2 separate regions of the Homo sapiens genome follow, and region 2 is linked to region 1. The links come from fine-mapping of genetic effects on gene expression. A gene starts in region 1. The other region holds a variant in brackets. All regions are shown on one strand. Distances are from middle to middle.

The links.
Region 2: its variant is fine-mapped to the expression of LINC02009 in esophagus muscle (GTEx, PIP 0.91).

Annotation. Positions count from the first base shown.
Region 1 is chr3:46,418,907-46,427,381 of GRCh38, forward strand. It overlaps LINC02009 (long intergenic non-protein coding RNA 2009), which reads right to left and starts at 4,761. Exons shown (of 5, transcript NR_151704.1): 1 at 4,639-4,761; 2 at 3,779-3,892; 3 at 2,467-2,586; 4 at 611-757; 5 at 1-140.
Region 2 is chr3:46,394,970-46,403,444 of GRCh38, forward strand. The region is part of intron 1 of CCR5AS (CCR5 antisense RNA); the gene reads right to left. Among named protein-coding and RNA genes, the nearest start is that of CCR5AS, 7.9 kb to the right of the region's middle. The variant T/G (reference allele first, on the strand shown) is at 4,716.

The DNA.
Region 1 (8,475 bases):
TCTCTGCAGATGCTGAATGTATGTGCTAAGGCAAGCCATCTGCAGCTGCTAGAAGGGCGGTGCAGATCCAACAGTTGGAAACATTGGTCACTTCAGTGTAGGTGTGGGCCCAGTCCACAATGCAGTTGGAGCATGTTAACCTACAGTTGGAATGACAGAGTAGGCATAGGTACTAACAGAGGAAAATCACATCCCTCAGGTAAAATACAGGCTAACCTTTCATCCCTGGATAACAATGCAGCCCCCAAGGGGTTCTGCCCTGGGCAATAGTACCACACCTTTTCAGCTCCCCATGGTTCCTTTGGGTCCTGTATTCATGCGAAAGTCACAGGGGAGCTTGTAGTAGGCCACACAGACAGTACATTTGAACCCTGGAGGAAAGTTTCTTCCCTGGCCGTTTTCCTACAAACAGTTAACTTCGGGGACCATTCATTGAACACCCAAAGAGTGACATACAAGTCATACTGTAGGCCCTCCCCACAGGGAGCTACGATGGACAACCACCAGCAGCCGGGGGCTTGGAGGGGCTATGGCCACAGCCAGGTTTTCTGTTCCCCTGCCTTCAGGGACGTTGGGGCAGGCAACAACAGGTTACTGTTCATCCCCATACCTGGTCAGAGGCGGTTACCCTTGGTGTGTATCTGCAACTGAATAGGGGTGGTGGCCCATGTAACAAAGCCTCCACCTGGGCTGGGCTGCTTTTCCATGGCCATTCATTCAAGGTTTGGAGCATCAGGTCCAGCCTGGAACTTCAGCCCTGCAAAGACAGGAGTGTGACATGCAAGTAAAACCCATTCTTCAAGAGCTCGCTATATCACTCAATCATACCCACAGCTTGCAAGTTGTGCGGTACATGGAATCCCTACTTTATGTCCATTGTTGTGCCTGTTGTCCAGTAAAATGTGTCCCCCATCACTCTCAATGACCAAAGGGCAACCATATAGAGCACATAAGTGTTGCAGGGTCTGGATGGTGTGCTGTTGGTTGGCCACCCTGCAAGGATAGGCAAACAACAGGCCTGTGGCTGTGTCCACAGCTGTTAGCGCATGAGTATACCCTTGTGACTTCGGCAGCAGCCCAATGTAGTCTACTTGCCACCTGGTCAAGGGCACTTGCCCTGTTGTCACTTGTGTAGCACTGGACAGCTGCCTCCATTTAGGGTATGCCTGAGCACATGCCGGGCATTTCTGACAAGCCTCCCAAATGTCTTGCATGGGCAGAGACAGACCCCAACATTTATTGACTTGTTGCATCAGTTTACCCCCTGCATGTCCCAGTTTCCGGTGTAGCTACAAGGCCACATCTCATGTAGATGCCAACTCTAACCATCGGACCTTGGCCAAGGCTTCTGCCTCGTCATTGCTGGGGGTGGCCAGAGGCATATGGCCTGACAAATGATAAATAGTTACATCTTTGCAATGACCCATTTCCCAGAGGTCTTGCTACATGGGTTGGTGGCCCCAAATGGGTTGGTGGCCAACTAGCCAATTCTGTATTTTCCAAGTAGTTAAACACAAAGTTAGGCCTCCATAGACTGCCCAGCTATCGGTACGGATTACCATAGGTGTCTCCGCCTTGTTGATCACCATCCATACTGCTTTAAATTCAGCCCATTGACTACTTTGTCCACATCTGGTTTCAAACCATATGGTTTTGGTACTAAGTTGGACTGCAACACTGGTCCAAGCAGGAGTAGCACCTCGACTAGACCCATCTGTGTGCCATGCCCCATCAGGAATAGAGGGACGCCCTTCCTTAAATGGCAGTGGCTCAGGGTCAAGGGGTGCCTCAGGCCCCATGGCCTTCTCTTGCATTAGGACTGCAGGTCCCAAGACCTCTTGCAACTCTGCTGCTAATGGGCTTGTGCTCAGCGTACTCTGTTGCTCCAAGTAAGTGCCTCACTTTGCCAAAGTGGATGTCTGCACCATCCCAGTCTGGGGGGTCATTACACATGAATGCACCCATCCCGCTGTCAGGTAAGTCATCCACACTGTGACTGTAGCCCATCCTATCACTTCTCACAAGCCTGAAGGGCAGCATATACAGCTGCTAGCTATTTCTCTATCAAGGAATACCAGAGCTCAGCTCCTTTCCATAGTTGGGACCAAAAGCCTCCTGGCATTCTCAGGCACTCTGTGTGCTGCCACAGGCCCAAACTAAAACCATCTGTGGTCACATGCATATCCAGTTCAAATGGGCACCCCTTGTCAAATACCCACAGGGCTCGTGCCTGCTGAATAGCCCACTTGGCTGCCAGGAAGCCAGTCTCAGCCACATCAGCCCAATCCCAGATTGCTCCCTTCTTTGTTAACTGATACAATGGTTTTATCATTTGAGCTAAATGAGGCAGGAATGTCCACCAATATCCCAGGAGGCTCACAAAAGTTTGCAGCTGCCTCACCGTGGTGGGCCAGGGATATGCCTAAATTTTGTCAATGATAGCCTCTTGTATGGCCTTCATCTTACCCGACCAGATAACTCCCAAGAATTTAGCAGGTAATCCAGGCCCTCGGACCTTGGATTTGTTGATGGCCCAACTGCATGCTGCCAAATGTTGCCACAAGAGGGGTGCCACTGCTTCTAAATCTGCAAGAGAATCAGAGGTTAACATAATATCATCAACGTAATGGAACAAGTGGACTCCCTTTGGACATTTTCAGGCTGTTAAATCCATGGCAACAAGACCATGACATATGGTGGAGCTATGCACATAGCCCTGCAGCAACACTGTGAAAGTCCATTGTCATCAAGGCAAACTGTTCCTGGCTCTCTAGAGCAAGGTCAACTGAGAAGAATGCATTGGCCAAGTCCACCACATAGTGGTACTGTCCTAATTCCATTGTCGAGTGGTTCATCAAATCCATGATAGATGGCACAGCTTCCAAGCCATGTAAAATATCCACCTCCAGAATGTATTCAGGTATGGGAGAGACATACACAGTGTATAAGCAAGGAGCCAAGTGGCCAATGCCAAGGTACAGAGATACAGGTTTCACTTTCACTGACTGGCCTCCGTAACCTTTAATATATGCAGATTTGCCCAAAAACTTAACTGGGTTCCCATAAACAAGGCTACAATCTATGCCAGTATCTACCAGCACCAGCACCCACTGTACATTGGTGGGGGACCAGTGGATTGCCAATTCCACATGTGGCCTCTGGTCATCTGGTGTCCCCCCAAGCCAGACACCTTTGGCCAGTTCCCTAGTTGAACAGAAAAGGCTCTACATTTCCACCTGGCTGCAGCAAGTAGTCTCTGAGCTGGGTAGGACCAGGTCACACAGCAATGCCTTTCTCCCCTTTGGGCATTTTCCGGAATTGCTGCCCTGCATACAACTGTCTCCGCAAAGTTAGGAGTATTTCATTGGGCTGCTTATCAATTTTCTCTCAGTCAACCCCAGCCAAAATCAAATCTATCCACATCTGTGAGCGTGTCACTCGTTGGGGCCCCCTTTTTTTATGGGGGAGCCCCCTGTGGGTGGGGTAACTTCCCCTTCTTTATGGTGTGGACCCTCCAATCCCCCTGAAGGCCTTCTGCTTCCCTGAGAGCCGCCATGGCAGTGGTTACTTCATGTATGCGGTGCCCTACGTATGGGGTGAGGACAGCAGCTAGGGAGCCAAAGGGGCTCAGGAGCATCAAACCCAACATGAGATCCCTCATGTGGGAGGTGAAACATTTATCATCTGGCCCTCAGGTATTCAGGACAAACATAGCCTGCCGCATACCCATCTCCCGAATGACTTACACCAAATTGGCATATGACTGCCATTTACTCACAGTTTTGGGCATTTCACCAGCATTATTCCACACAGTTCATATGGCTGCCTGTAGCCACTCAGTCAGGGTGTGGTCTCCTTGCGCTGCCACTAACCACCTGCTCACTTGCAGCCGCTGACAGAGAGAGGGGTGAGTCATGGTGGAGGCCAGCTTGTCCATCTCAGAGGTGGAATGGGAGATACCATCTGCTCCCTTGTTCCACAGACGAAGCATCCAGGCAGGCAGGGGTTCCCCTGGACACTGGCAACACTGCTTGCCTAATTCCTGCAACTCAGTTGGGGTACAGGCAATATACGAAATGTGTTGCATTATGGTGGGGAGTCCCTGAGTCCACCCTTGGAGCCCCAGTGGCTGTTCATGATCTACCTTCTGTCAGACCACCGGGTGAGCCCGCAACAGGGGTTCTTCCTCCTTGGTATGAAACTGAGTGGGGATCTCCAGACAAGATGATGGACCCAGGCCTGCATTCATGGTAGCCTCTAATTCCTTTTCCAAGCTCTGAAGCCACACCTCCAGGCATCCTGCCTGCACCTGGAGGTCCCCATTCATGGCAGCCTCTAATTATTTTCCAGATCGGTGTAGCCAGACCTCCAGTCTGCATCCCTCAGGGACTGGGTGTGTACTTTTCTTAGCACAGTTAAAAATGCCCATCCAACTCTGCCAGCAAAGGCTCTCTCCTTCTTGGTGCTCTGCACTTCCAGCTGCTTCAGCGCCTTCTCCATGCTCATGGGGGACCCATCTACTGCCACCCAGGTTTCCACTCAGGCCCACCCTCACAGCACGGCTACCACCGGGTACCACAACCCATGTTGTGGTCACATGGCCAACCTGGAATCAGCAGGGACCGAAGGCTCACTTACCTTAGGATCCTGTTCGTGATGCCAATTGTCAGGTTCTAGCCCAAACTAAAGTCCAAGGGGAGTTGGTGGGTGGGTGGCAGGTAACTGGAAAAACACTCGAGTAGGCGGTTTCGACATGGCTTTATTCTCTCTCTGGGTGCAAGCCATATGTAGTGTCAGCAGGGTAATTTTACCTTTTACAGACAATAGTGGCTTTGAGCCAAGCACGTGCTCATATGAGTGGTCACCTAATGCACCTCACATGGCATGGTTACATAATGTGTGGAGTTGTGTGCCTGCCTCCAAACCCACTGAGTCATGCTGCACCAGAAGGCTGCCTCGGCCTACTCCTGACTAAAGCACAACCATCTCCCTTAGAGTGGGCTAAATCTACTGCTATTTATACTATTAGAAATTTTAACACAGAAGTTTTAAATATTTACATTGTTAATTGATTTTGAAATAATAAGCCCATTACAGGTTAACATAATTAACATACTTTTATTAAAAATATCTGTATTTTTTAAAAGAAAAAAAATTAGCAACAACAGTGATCCTTGGAATCGTCCCACCTCAGCCTCCCAAGTAGCTGAGACCACAGGCGCACATCACCATGCGAGCTAATTTCTATATTTTTTGGTAGAGATGGGATCTTGCCATGCTGGCCAGGGTGGTCTCGAGCTCCTAAGCTCAAGTGATCCTCCTGCCTCGGTCTCCCAAAGTGCTGAGATTACAGGTGTGAGCCACCACTTCTGGCCAGAAGCTGGATTCTCTGTCTTGTTCTCCATCCAATCTGTTAGACTGTCAAATGCCAAATAACCTTTGGAAAATTCTACTCGTAAAATAAGGAGAGAGATAAATAACTTCTGAGTATCATCATTAAAATAGTTTGACCTCATGGACCCACTGGGTCCCATGTGGAGAATAGCTCTAAGCTAAAGAGTAGAATGGCTGGGAGGGGACATAAACATTCAGCCCATAGCTGCTGACCACAATAACACATTTTAAGTCTCTTCCTCTCCTGCTCCTTGTGATTGCAGACAGACTCAATCTGTAGGAGAGCTGTAGAGAGAACAAGCTCAAGCCCCTGATTTTGCCTACAAAGAAAGCTGAGCCCAGCAAAGTTAAGGGACTTACCCAAGGTCACACAGCCACACAGCAGAGCTGGGGCTGAGCTCCAGGTGTCCTGCTACAGAGGCCACTTCTTTCTCCCACTAGGGACTGGCCTGTGATTACTTCAGAAAACAATGGTCAGCTAACTGATTCTGAACGCCCTTTGCTGGTAAAAGCTAATCTCCTGAGGAAAAATGTATGCATTGGCTGGGCGCAGTGGCTCAAGCCTATAATTCCAGCATTTTGGGAGGTGGAGACAGGTGGATCACTTGAGGTCAGGAGTTTAAGACCAGCCTGGCAGTCATGGTGAAACCCCGTCTCTACTAAAACTACAAATATTAAGCTCGGCATGGTGGCAGGCACCTGTAATCCCAGCTACTGGAGAGACTGAGGCAGGAGAATCGCTTGAACCCAGGAGGCGGAGGTTGCAGTGAGCCGAGGTCGCACCACTGCATTCCATCCTGGGCAACAGAGTGAGATTCTGTCTCAAAAAATAATAATAGTAAAATAAAAATAAATAAAAAAATAAGTATGCATCACCTCAGGTGGTCAGTCAGCTTTCCCAAGACCCCAAAGCACACAATGTTCTTTCTGGTATGAGTGACATGGGGTTCACAGCACCACAAAGTCCATGACTTTTCCCTCAGAAGTGAATGCATGGCTAATTATTTTGTATTTTTTGTAGACATGGAGTTTTGCCATGTTGCCCACGCTGCTCTCAAATTCCTGGACTCAAGTAATCCACCCACCTCAGCTTCCCAAGGTGCTGGGATTACAGGCATGAGACACCGCATGACCTGCACCTATAGTCCCAGCTATCAGGAGGCTGAGGTGGGAGGATCACCTGAACCGGGGAAGTTGAACCTGCAGTGAACTGTGATCGCTCCGGTGCACTCCATCCTGGGCAACAGAGTGAGATCCTGCCTCAAAAAAAAAAAAAAAGTGAACACACATGCTGGGGAAGAGGCCTGCAGGCACCCCTGCCAGTTCTGCACCAGAGCACACTGTAGCAGCCCTGCTGTGATGCAGGAAGCAGCTCCAGGTCCTGCAGTCTGAAGCATGGAGCCTGAAGCCTGGAGCCCCCCATCCAATGCTGCGCCATGCTCACCAGTATCCCCCAGCATCAGCACCGAGGCACCAGCTGCAGATAAATTTCTCACCTAAAATGTTGAGAGATGTTGCTAAACTGTCCTTCTAAGGGTATGTATAATAATACGGTCCTGCCGATACTGAATAAGACTATCTGTTTCATTACATCCTCACAATACTGAATATCATTAGCAACTTGAATTTTAAATTGTGCTAATCAATGAAAATGATTGCCTAATTACTAGTGAGTTGAGGTTATTTAACATTAATACTCCTTCTGATGAAATATTTTGCATTTATCACATTTTACATAAATTCTCTCTATATAATTAGCACTAGAATGTCCGACTTGGTTTTCATTGTTCCTCACCTGTTTGGAAACACATTAAGAATGAGGGAGAGAATGGATGGGGACTCACCTAGGGATGCATGGAGCTGGTCGGCAGCCACTCTGAGGCCCTCTTAACACTTCCCCACCACACACTTAATTTCCCCTGGTTTGTCCATAGATACATCCAACAATTTTTATGTAAATAAGAAAGACTCAGCTTTCAATGGAAAATGGTAGGTTGGATTTTATGACTGAAGTGGCAAAAAGAAATAAGGGATTTTATTATGGGGGAGGTCCAAACCCTGGTGAAAAACGAAATTCATTGAAATTGTTTGAAAATTCAAGGATTAAATCAGATTATTTTGGATTCAGTAGGAATTAGATTACTTTAAAGCCCCAGGATACTTTATTCTGTAGAATGCATGGAAAGTATAGAAAAGAGAAACAAAGAGGGAAAGTCATGGCTAATAACCTGGAAGGGGTAAATAGGGAGCCAAAGGCCTGTGGGACGTAACCAACTCAGCATTCCACTGGAGGCTTTATGATCAAATAGCAAGCTATTTATCATGAATGCAGGATGTGGGCAAACTCACGACTGCTCCCACTGCCAGAAGGTTTGCTGAGGGCAATCACTTCCTGGCACCGAGCTCCTTGAGGTTATCTACTGGGACATCTGGAGAATGCAGTCTTGCAAGCCTACTCTGGACCCAGCAGCTGACCCCTTCTTCCATGCCCCTCTTCCTGCTATCTCTTTTGCCTAATAAATATGGAGGGCTGTGTAAAGCTCAGGGCCCTTGTCCACTAGAGGCAAACTGCCCGCTGACCCCTTCTTCCAAATATGCTCTTTTGTCTCATGTCTTTTATTCCCGCTTTCACCCCACTTTGTTCAGTCCCCCTAGGTCCGTGTGGGTTACATAGTGGCGCCCTGAACAGCGACAGAATCAGGTGCTCTACAAGTGGCGTCCGAACACAGGGACTATGAGGATGTGAATGAAGAAGATCTGCTGGAGCAGAGGAATTGAAATTGACAAGGTGAATGGGGATCCCGGGACAAGTCTGCCGGCAGCAGATATAAGGTCAGTGCCCTAAAGAGCTACTGGGAGCAGTGCCTTAAAGTAGTACTGGGAATGGGAAGTTTTCTGAATCAGGGTAACATGGGGCAGAATTGGTCTGTTGAAGAAAAACATTATGTGCAGTTGCTTAAAGTTTTGTTGAAACAAACTGGTGCTCAGGTTAGTTCTCACATTAACTACGATGCTACAGGAAGTCATTATGCATAACCCATGGTTTCCACAGGCAGGGACTCTTGATGTAGAAAATTGGGA
Region 2 (8,475 bases), 24 kb before region 1:
CCTGGCGATGTGGAGACTGTATTGGAAGAAGGCAAGAATGGAGGAGAGCCCCTAGGTGGAGGTTTGGCAATGCTCTCTCCAGAATATAGCAGAGGCCTCTTCCAAGGTAGGAAAGCCCTGACTGGAGAGAAGTTAATGGCTCTGAGGGCTCAAGGGAGGACTTGGATTATCAGGACTTTTAGGGAGGCATATGATCAAGGCTTGGGTCTTGGCCCATTGAAATGGGGAGCACTGGTTTTAGGATGTGGGTCAATTAGTTTGGTTTTCAGGACAGGCTGAGTTGGATATCCTGGGGGACCTCCAGGTGGCAGTGTCAGGGGAAGCTGGATGTGCTGACACTGAACTCAGCAGAGTGACTGAGTAGAGATCGACATCTGGGGTCACAGGCAGTGGATGCCGTAGGGGTGGACTCAATAGCTCAAGCAGAACCCGGAGGAATGCAGGCAGCAAAGGGAGCCCTAAAGAACAGTGAGGAGATGTGCCAAGAAAGAGCCAAATCCGGGGGATTGGCTGTGGGAGAGAGGGCTGTGGGAGTAAGAGGAAGTGTCAGCAACGTCAAATGTTGCAGAGACATAGAGTAAGGTAAGAGTGGAAAAAACATCCATGGAACCCTGTGATGCAATCGGAATGCAGAAAGACTTTGTAACTCCTGCCTGGTCTCCTCCTCTGCCCACTCATGGCAAAGGAATACAAAGTAATGTTCCCTCCTTCCGCCTAGAAAAGCACAACTTCTGCCCCCAAGCCCTGGGCTCTCCTGAGAGGACAGGACCAGCCTCTGAAGTTGAAGGTCCTGGTTCTGCCCCCAAGCCCTGGGCTCTCCTGAGAGGACAGGACCAGCCTCTGAAGTTGAAGGTCCTGGTTTACCAGATAGGGAAGGGGCCCTTTCCAAGACCCTTTCCAGAAGGTGTGGCTGAGATGGGAACCGTGGACTCTGTGCAGATGTAGGAGCTGGCTCCAGTCAAGTGCTAGGAGGTTGTGGGTCCTGGGAAGGAAGAGGCTCTGGAGCCTCTGTGGAGACTCTGGGACTGTCCTTGGGGGAGACGTGAGCAGGAAGAAGCAGGGCCTTCACAGTCCCCAGCTTAGGGGCCTCACCACCCAGACTGAAGACCAGGACCAAACCCTTTCCTGCACAGTTACAATGTGTCATTTAATTTTACTAAAGGGAATATTTTTTAAATGAGGATGCTACTTTGTGTATTAATTTTTACCTCTATTCATAAAAGAAACGTTTCTTATCTATTTAAGATGATTCATATCAGACCAGTGTCTGCCCAACTCGACTGACCCTGTGAAAACTGGGCACTTCACACTCCAATGATGATGGATGAGTCCCCAGCAGCATAGTTTAAGGGAGTGAGTGGGCAGTGTGGCCTCCTGTGCACGTGACTTCCTCCTTCAGTGTGCCCACATGTGGGTTCCACGGTCTTGTGACATTGTGGCTTTAGAAATTTCTGTTTCCATTTTCTATCATTCAGAGTAAATGAAATTTGCAGGAAATTCAGAACCTTCCACCTGTACAGTGGATACTGTGAGACTCTGCCCAGATGCCCTTTTCAAGCCAATGCATCTCTCCATGCTCCCACTCCCATAGATGGGAACAGAGGTGCTGGAACTCAGATCTACTCCCCTTTCTGGGAACTGGAGCTGCCTGCCCAGGCAATGCCCCCTTCCCAGGGATGGCTGAGCCAATGACTGGCTAATGTTGGATTGCAGAGGCCTAGCGCCCTCCCCTCAATTCCTAATTCCTTGTAGGAATAACTGAGGCCTCCTCTGTGACCACGTGGGCAGCTTCTCCCTCTGCCTGGTCCTGTCTTGTTCTCTCCTTTCCAATTGTGTCTCCTGGAAGCCCTCCCCACAAGTCTGCTGCATACAACTCTCCTTCTCAGAGAGCCTGAGCCCTGGATTCCCAGGAATCCAGCCTAAAATAGTCTGGCATTTGGTTTCAATTTTCTCTTTCACTAAGACTCAGTCACAGGTGCTAATAAATAATAAAATGTCACCACCTTGAATTCTATCACTCTCTCTTTTCTTGCCCCATCTCTGACAAGTAGGTGGTCCCTCAAGAACCTGAAAAGCAGACATTAGGAGGAAAGGAGGAGTGGGGGCAAGAGGCCCACACCTCACCTGGCCGGCTCCCATCCATGCGCCCTTGACTGAGGTAACACCTACCCTGGGAATCCTTCCCCTGCCTCTCGTGAGCCAGGCCGGGTGCTCTTGGGACAGCTCCCACTGCTCCTGTGTGCTCCCCCAGCTTGGCACATGACTCCCTGAATTATAGTCAGTTCCGTACCTGAATCTCCCTCTAGAATGCCAGTGCCACGAGGACAGAGGACGGTTCCACTTTGTTCACTATTTTCTCCCCAGGGTCTGGCAAAGTTCCTGGGACTTGGGAGAGGTGTCCTTCAGGAGCTTGGCAGAAGCCAAACGGCACACTTAAGTAGGGCAACTGAGGTGAGTTTAATGAAGGATTCTATACAAAAATTTGGACAAGGTATAGGGAGGCCACAATACACAGTGCAGTGCCTGGTGCCAGTGAGAGCAGGGCACTATTCCCACTGCAAGGCCAGACAGGGCAAGGGGAGGGAGCTGCCTGACAAGAGCTGCCCTTACGTCAAGGGACACATCAGCCCACTAGACCCCATCAGGAGGGAGCCAGGGCCTGACTCCCCTGACCTTGCTCTCCAATCTTCTGCCTAAAATTCCCCATCAGCCAAACACAACTGAAAACTGAAAGACAGGGGAGCCTGCTGTTAATAAGGTGAGCATCCCCCAGAATAAAGCTGGGTAGAGAGTGGAGAATGGATATGGAAGGGCAAAAGGAAGATTTATAAGACAGTGGGCACTAAATATCTATGAGATGAATAAAGGAACCACATTTTACAACAAACGGTCATTGAAACGCTACTCAATGGAAAGAGATCATTTCGGTCACTGTCTGGTGCAGACAAATCAAAGCCCACATGCATCAAAAAGGCCATGTCCGTGTAACTCCGACACGGGGCAGACAGCAAGGCTGAAGCCTATGGGGTATGTGGAGCCGGAACTGAGAGATCCTGATGTAAATCTAGCACTTGGGAAAAGGGGGACTAGAAGAAATTCACCCACAGGCAGAGGAAAACACAAACACTTATCTATTTTTGCCTAGGCTTTAAGTGGTATGGGAAAAATCTCTGAGACTACAAATCCTGTGCTTCATGCACAGGTTTATAATACCCTCAAAATGGAAGACCCCAAAACCCAGGCGCGGAAAATTCATATCAGGCCATTGATGCCCTCAATGTTCCCGGCTGAAACAAACTCAAAACTCCTCTGGAAAGGAGTGCTCCCACTTCAAGCCATGAAAAGCTACTGCAGAGAAAATAATCCCCAGTCAAGACACACTCACATTGAAACTGCAAGGCACACAAGGAAATGGATCACCTTGAGTGATAGCTGGCAGAGCTAATAAACCTCTGTATACCTCTAAGAAGCTCCACGCACTAGTATAACCCTTAAAGATTTGATGAAATCATTACTTTATTAAAATTGTTTTTATAAAAAATCAAAATCCAAAAAAAGCAACAAATTTTATACCAGAGCCAATTCGGTATATACAAGGGTGTCTTACTCTTTTGGAATTTGTCTTATTGTCCTAACTCAGCACATTGTCCTGGTCTATGAAAAGTCCTAGAAACCCTTCTACCCTCTGTAATGTAGGAGCTTTAACTCAATAGGGTTTTTTAAATTCTTTTTTCTTGTCTTTTTTTCTTTTTTAATTTTTTCCATTTTTTCAAGTCAAACTGAAGAAATATTTTTCTTTTCTTTCTAGGAATGCATATTCACCCCCCAAGGCCACTTGTCTCCTGATTGGAGAGTATTAGACAATTCTCAGGATTTCTTTATTTTCCTTCTTTATTCCATAGGATTGGGAAACCCAGTAGGATTGGGTTTAGGCATATCTCTAAAGCACCATGTTTCAACGTTTTGATGTAAGATTGTGCCCTATTTCTTGTTCAGTTGCTGCCAGCAGATGTTATAGTTTTAAAACTAGTTTTTGGTCATTGAGATATTAGAGGAGGGAAGAGTCTGCTATCCTGCTTTACTCATCTTCATCTACACTACACTGTCATCTTCACTGCAAAGTCCTGTATTAATGTTTTTAGATTCTATAACATTTTAACAGGTGTCAAAAAATCTTAAGCACCACTTCAGCTTGGGAATCTCTAAATGTAATGGTGTTTGTGGGCTGGACTGATGTCTGCGTCTTGTTGTTGTTATTGTCTGTAGTAATGGAGAGCCGGGAGATCCTGGACACTTCCTGTTCATGGGCACTTGATGCATTAGCTGCCCCAGCAGCTGATTACATTTAAACAAGGATGTGTGGGTGAACCCAGGGAGACCAATCTCAGTGGAATGGTGGGGGCAGAAGCCAGGCTGCAGGGTGTAGAGTAGGGAATGAGCAGTGATGAAGTAGAAACAGAGTTTGGACAACTAGTGAAACTGCCTGGAAGAGGGGGAGAAGAGACAGTAAATGGTCTGACCAATGTTTGAGGTCAAAGTGGGTTTGTAATCTTTATTTAAGGGACAGATCTGAGCATTTAAAAATTCTGAATAATCTAATAGAGAGGAAAAAGTTGGGACTCAAAGAAAATGTGGGAAAAAATGATGAAGGTTAAACGGAATGAGATCCAGAGTGCAGGGGGAGAGATTAGCCTTTGGTGTTAGAGGAGCAACTC[T/G]GTCCATGGAGAGAGGAAAAATGTAGACATACCACAGTTGCATTTGAAGTTGGGGCCTGAGGAGTTGAGGAGTTCTGAGAAAAGCAGAAGATGAGATCATTTCCTGAGAGTAAATGGGAGTCATTAGAACGGGGGTGAAGAGACTGGAAGCTTTAGGTAGCTTGAAATAGTTGATGGAAAAATTGGATAAAGTGACAATTTGTCACACTCAGAACAGCTATCAGGGAATCTAGAAGAATCTCTGGAAGCTAGTTGAAGATCTTAAATTACCAATGTATCTTGTCCACATAGCTAAGCGGTTTTACTTATTTTTATTTTTTTGAAACAGGGTCTCACTCTGTCACACAGGCTGGAGTGTAGTAGTAGTAGCACAATCACAGCTCAATGCAATCTCTGCCTCCCGGGCTCAAGCAATCCTCCCACCCCAGCCTCCCGGGCCTGGGACTACAGACACACACCACCACTCCCAGCTATATTTTGTACATTTGTAGAGACAGGGTCTCGCCATGTTGCCCAAGCTGGTCTTGAACTCCTGGGCTCAAGTAATCTGCCCACCTCGGCCTCCCAAAGTGCTGGGATTACAAGCTTGAGCCCGGCTGCTAAGTGGTTTTAAACAGCTGTTCTCGGAAACACACACTCAAAGAAAAAATGTAGAGGATAATTTATCTAAGGCTGGGGCTTCAAGAGAGGTCAGGGTGTTGACAAGAGAATGACTAAGTGGCAGACTACTGGATCTCAGCTAGATAAAGAGGGATGTGATCGTGGGAGGGGCTGATAGTCAGAGGCTGGAAGGCTTGATGAACAACACATATTACACAAAGAATAAATGGAGTGAGAGAAACCAAAGGAGTAAAAGTTGTCATCAGAAAAGTGAGAAATTTTATTGTGAGAATTCAGTGGTAAATCAATGTTAACAAACCTCAGCTGGGCACTAGTGGAGTGAAACCGAAGGCCAGGGAGTTGAGTTAATGAGCTGAGACTTGGGCACCAGATGGGGGTCCACATGGACAACTAAGCCACCAGGATGATGTGGGAAACTGGGGTGAATAGAAGCCCCTTATCCATGTGCACAAGTCTTGAATAAAATAGGGGCAACCAGGCAGTCAGTGGATGATAGCAGTGAGGTGGAGCAGAGAGCAATGTAGTTGGAGAAGTGGAGCCCACAGCAGTCTCCTTTATATCTAGAAGGGAATTAATAGCCAAAAAATGGCACCGAGGCCAAGGATGTCACCTTCTGACTCCCAAATCTGAGACAGATGTGAGAGGGAAGGAGTATCCTCAAGGGACAGGAGATGGTGCGAATGTTTTTGGCATAAATCAAAGATGTCAGGGAAATTGTCAGAATTCAGGTTCCAGAGACACAGAGGAAAAGCGTGGGAGAAAGTGGAATATTGGGAGGTGAGATTAGGGCAGAGGAAGCACAAATCAAAGAACGAGGAATAGAAAAAGTCATATGAGCTGAGGAGTTGGCCAAACATGACAGAATGGGAATATGATGGAATTAAGTGGCTTTATGTGTTCCAAAAGGATTGGTCCACGCAGGCCACAGGAAAATGGGAGGTAAGAAGAAAGGGATCGAAATGCTGCAAAGTGTATTACTTCATGGTAAGCAAAGGACTCAAGACTCTAGAAAATGATGCCCTTCCTTCCAAGACTATGTTAGTCCAAATCTTTCAAGATACAGAACCCAAGGTGGGGTCTGGCATACAAGAAGTATAATAGAGGAAATGTCTGTGACATTTGCAGGACTGCAAAGGGAGCCAGGAGAAGCTGGGAAAGCCATGAGATCACAAGCAGGTCTGACTCCAAGTGAAGGAGATGGGGAATGACGCAAGGTTTGGCTGAAGCATGTGCCAAAGGCACCCATCAGAGGAGTCCCTCTCCAAGGGATGGGCCTATCATAGTGTCCCTAATAGTGTCATGGAGTGGGAGCAGCCCACGGAGGGCACAGCCTTGGCATGAACGCAGACATGGGTCTCAGAGTGCAGCAGCTGGGCCCCTCAGTCAATTAGGCTCCCTCAGAGCTGGGGCAGGAGGTGCACTAGACCACACAGTAATATTTATTTATTATTAATTTAATTAATAATATTAATTTATTAATTTAATTAATAATATATTTATTTATTTATTATTACTAGACCACACAGTAGTATTTGTATGTCTAAGGAAGCATTTCTCAGAATATACTCACTGAACTTTTAGCCTATAAGTACCTGTATGAAAATTTTAAAAGGGGTTTCATGATCAAAACATTTTGGGAAACACTCCATACCCTTTCTTCCTCATGAAGGATCATAATGCCTATTAGTATATGAAGGGCTCTGAGAAGTCCTGTAGTAAAGAAACTTGCTTTAGTTTTTTAGTCCAGCAATTTTTCAAACTTAAATGAGCAATAGCCTCCCATCCTTTTTTTTACACTTTTTAGCATACTGCGGAATAAACTCAACATGCATTGAGAAAGACTGCTTTAGGGAATAGTCAACACTATTTCACTCCCAGTAAGTACATATAAAATCTGTATTTCCAGGGTGGATTATCAACACAGCTGTATTTTAGAAATATTATCTGCCCTCCCAGGTATCACAGCTACTAATTATTGGGTACTGAGGTGGAATTTTAGGGATCAGCCAATTATGGGAAAGAAAATCTGGGGGCAGGATAAGATGGTCTCCGAAGCCTTAAAATTATATGCCATTATTTACCTCTTTGATCTACTACTCAATATCAAACAACTAATTCAGAAGAAAATTGATTGTTTTCTAAAAGTAGTTTTTCTACATTTCCCATTAAGAAGCAGTGGTATTTAAAACTTATAATGGCTATTATGTGAGATTATCACTATCATAGTTTTTCTCTATACAAATTTTCTGTAACATTTTATTTGCTAATAAAAATTAGATAGATGGATTGACTAATTGATAATCTAAGAAAGATTATATTTGAAGAAGCCATAGTAAGGGACAGATTAAATTATCATCAGTCTAAACATTCTAATACCTATTTCTCTTTTTTTGAAATTTTCCAAATTTGTTATTATGCATTTAAACAATAATTTTTTGAACTTTTATTTTAGGTTCTGGGGTACATGTGAAAGCTTGTTACGTAGGTAACCTTTTGTCATGAGGGTTTGTTGTACAAATTATTTCATCACTCAGCTATCAAGCCCAGTACTCAATAGGTATCTTTTCTGCTCCTCTCCCTCCTCCCGCCCTCCAGTCTCAAGTAGACCCCGGTGTCTGTTGTTCCCTTCTTTGAGTTCATGTGTTCTCATCATTTAGCTCCCACTTATAAGTGAGAATACAAGGTATTTGGTTTTCTGTTCCTGTGTTAGTTTGCTAAGGGTAATAGCCTCCAGCTCCATTCGTGTTTCCACAAAAAAACATGATCTCGTTCTTTTCATGGCTGCATAGTATTCCATGGTGTATATGTACCACACTTTCTTTATCTAATCTGTCATTGATGGGCATTTAGGTTTATTCCATGTCTTTGCTACTGTGAATAGTGCTGCAATGAACATTCACATGCGTGTGTCTTCATGGTAGAATGATTTATATTCCTCTGGGTGTATACCCAGTAATGGGATTTCTGTTTTTAGCTCTTTGATCTAATACCTATTTCTCAAGATCAAGTTAGATCTCTAAAAAAGGCATCATCCTAGCATTTCCCCATCCCTTCCCTGAACTAAATTTAATGTTGTGTGTATCAATCAGCATACAGTCAAGACAGAAACCACACATGAACATTAAATATAATGAGTTAT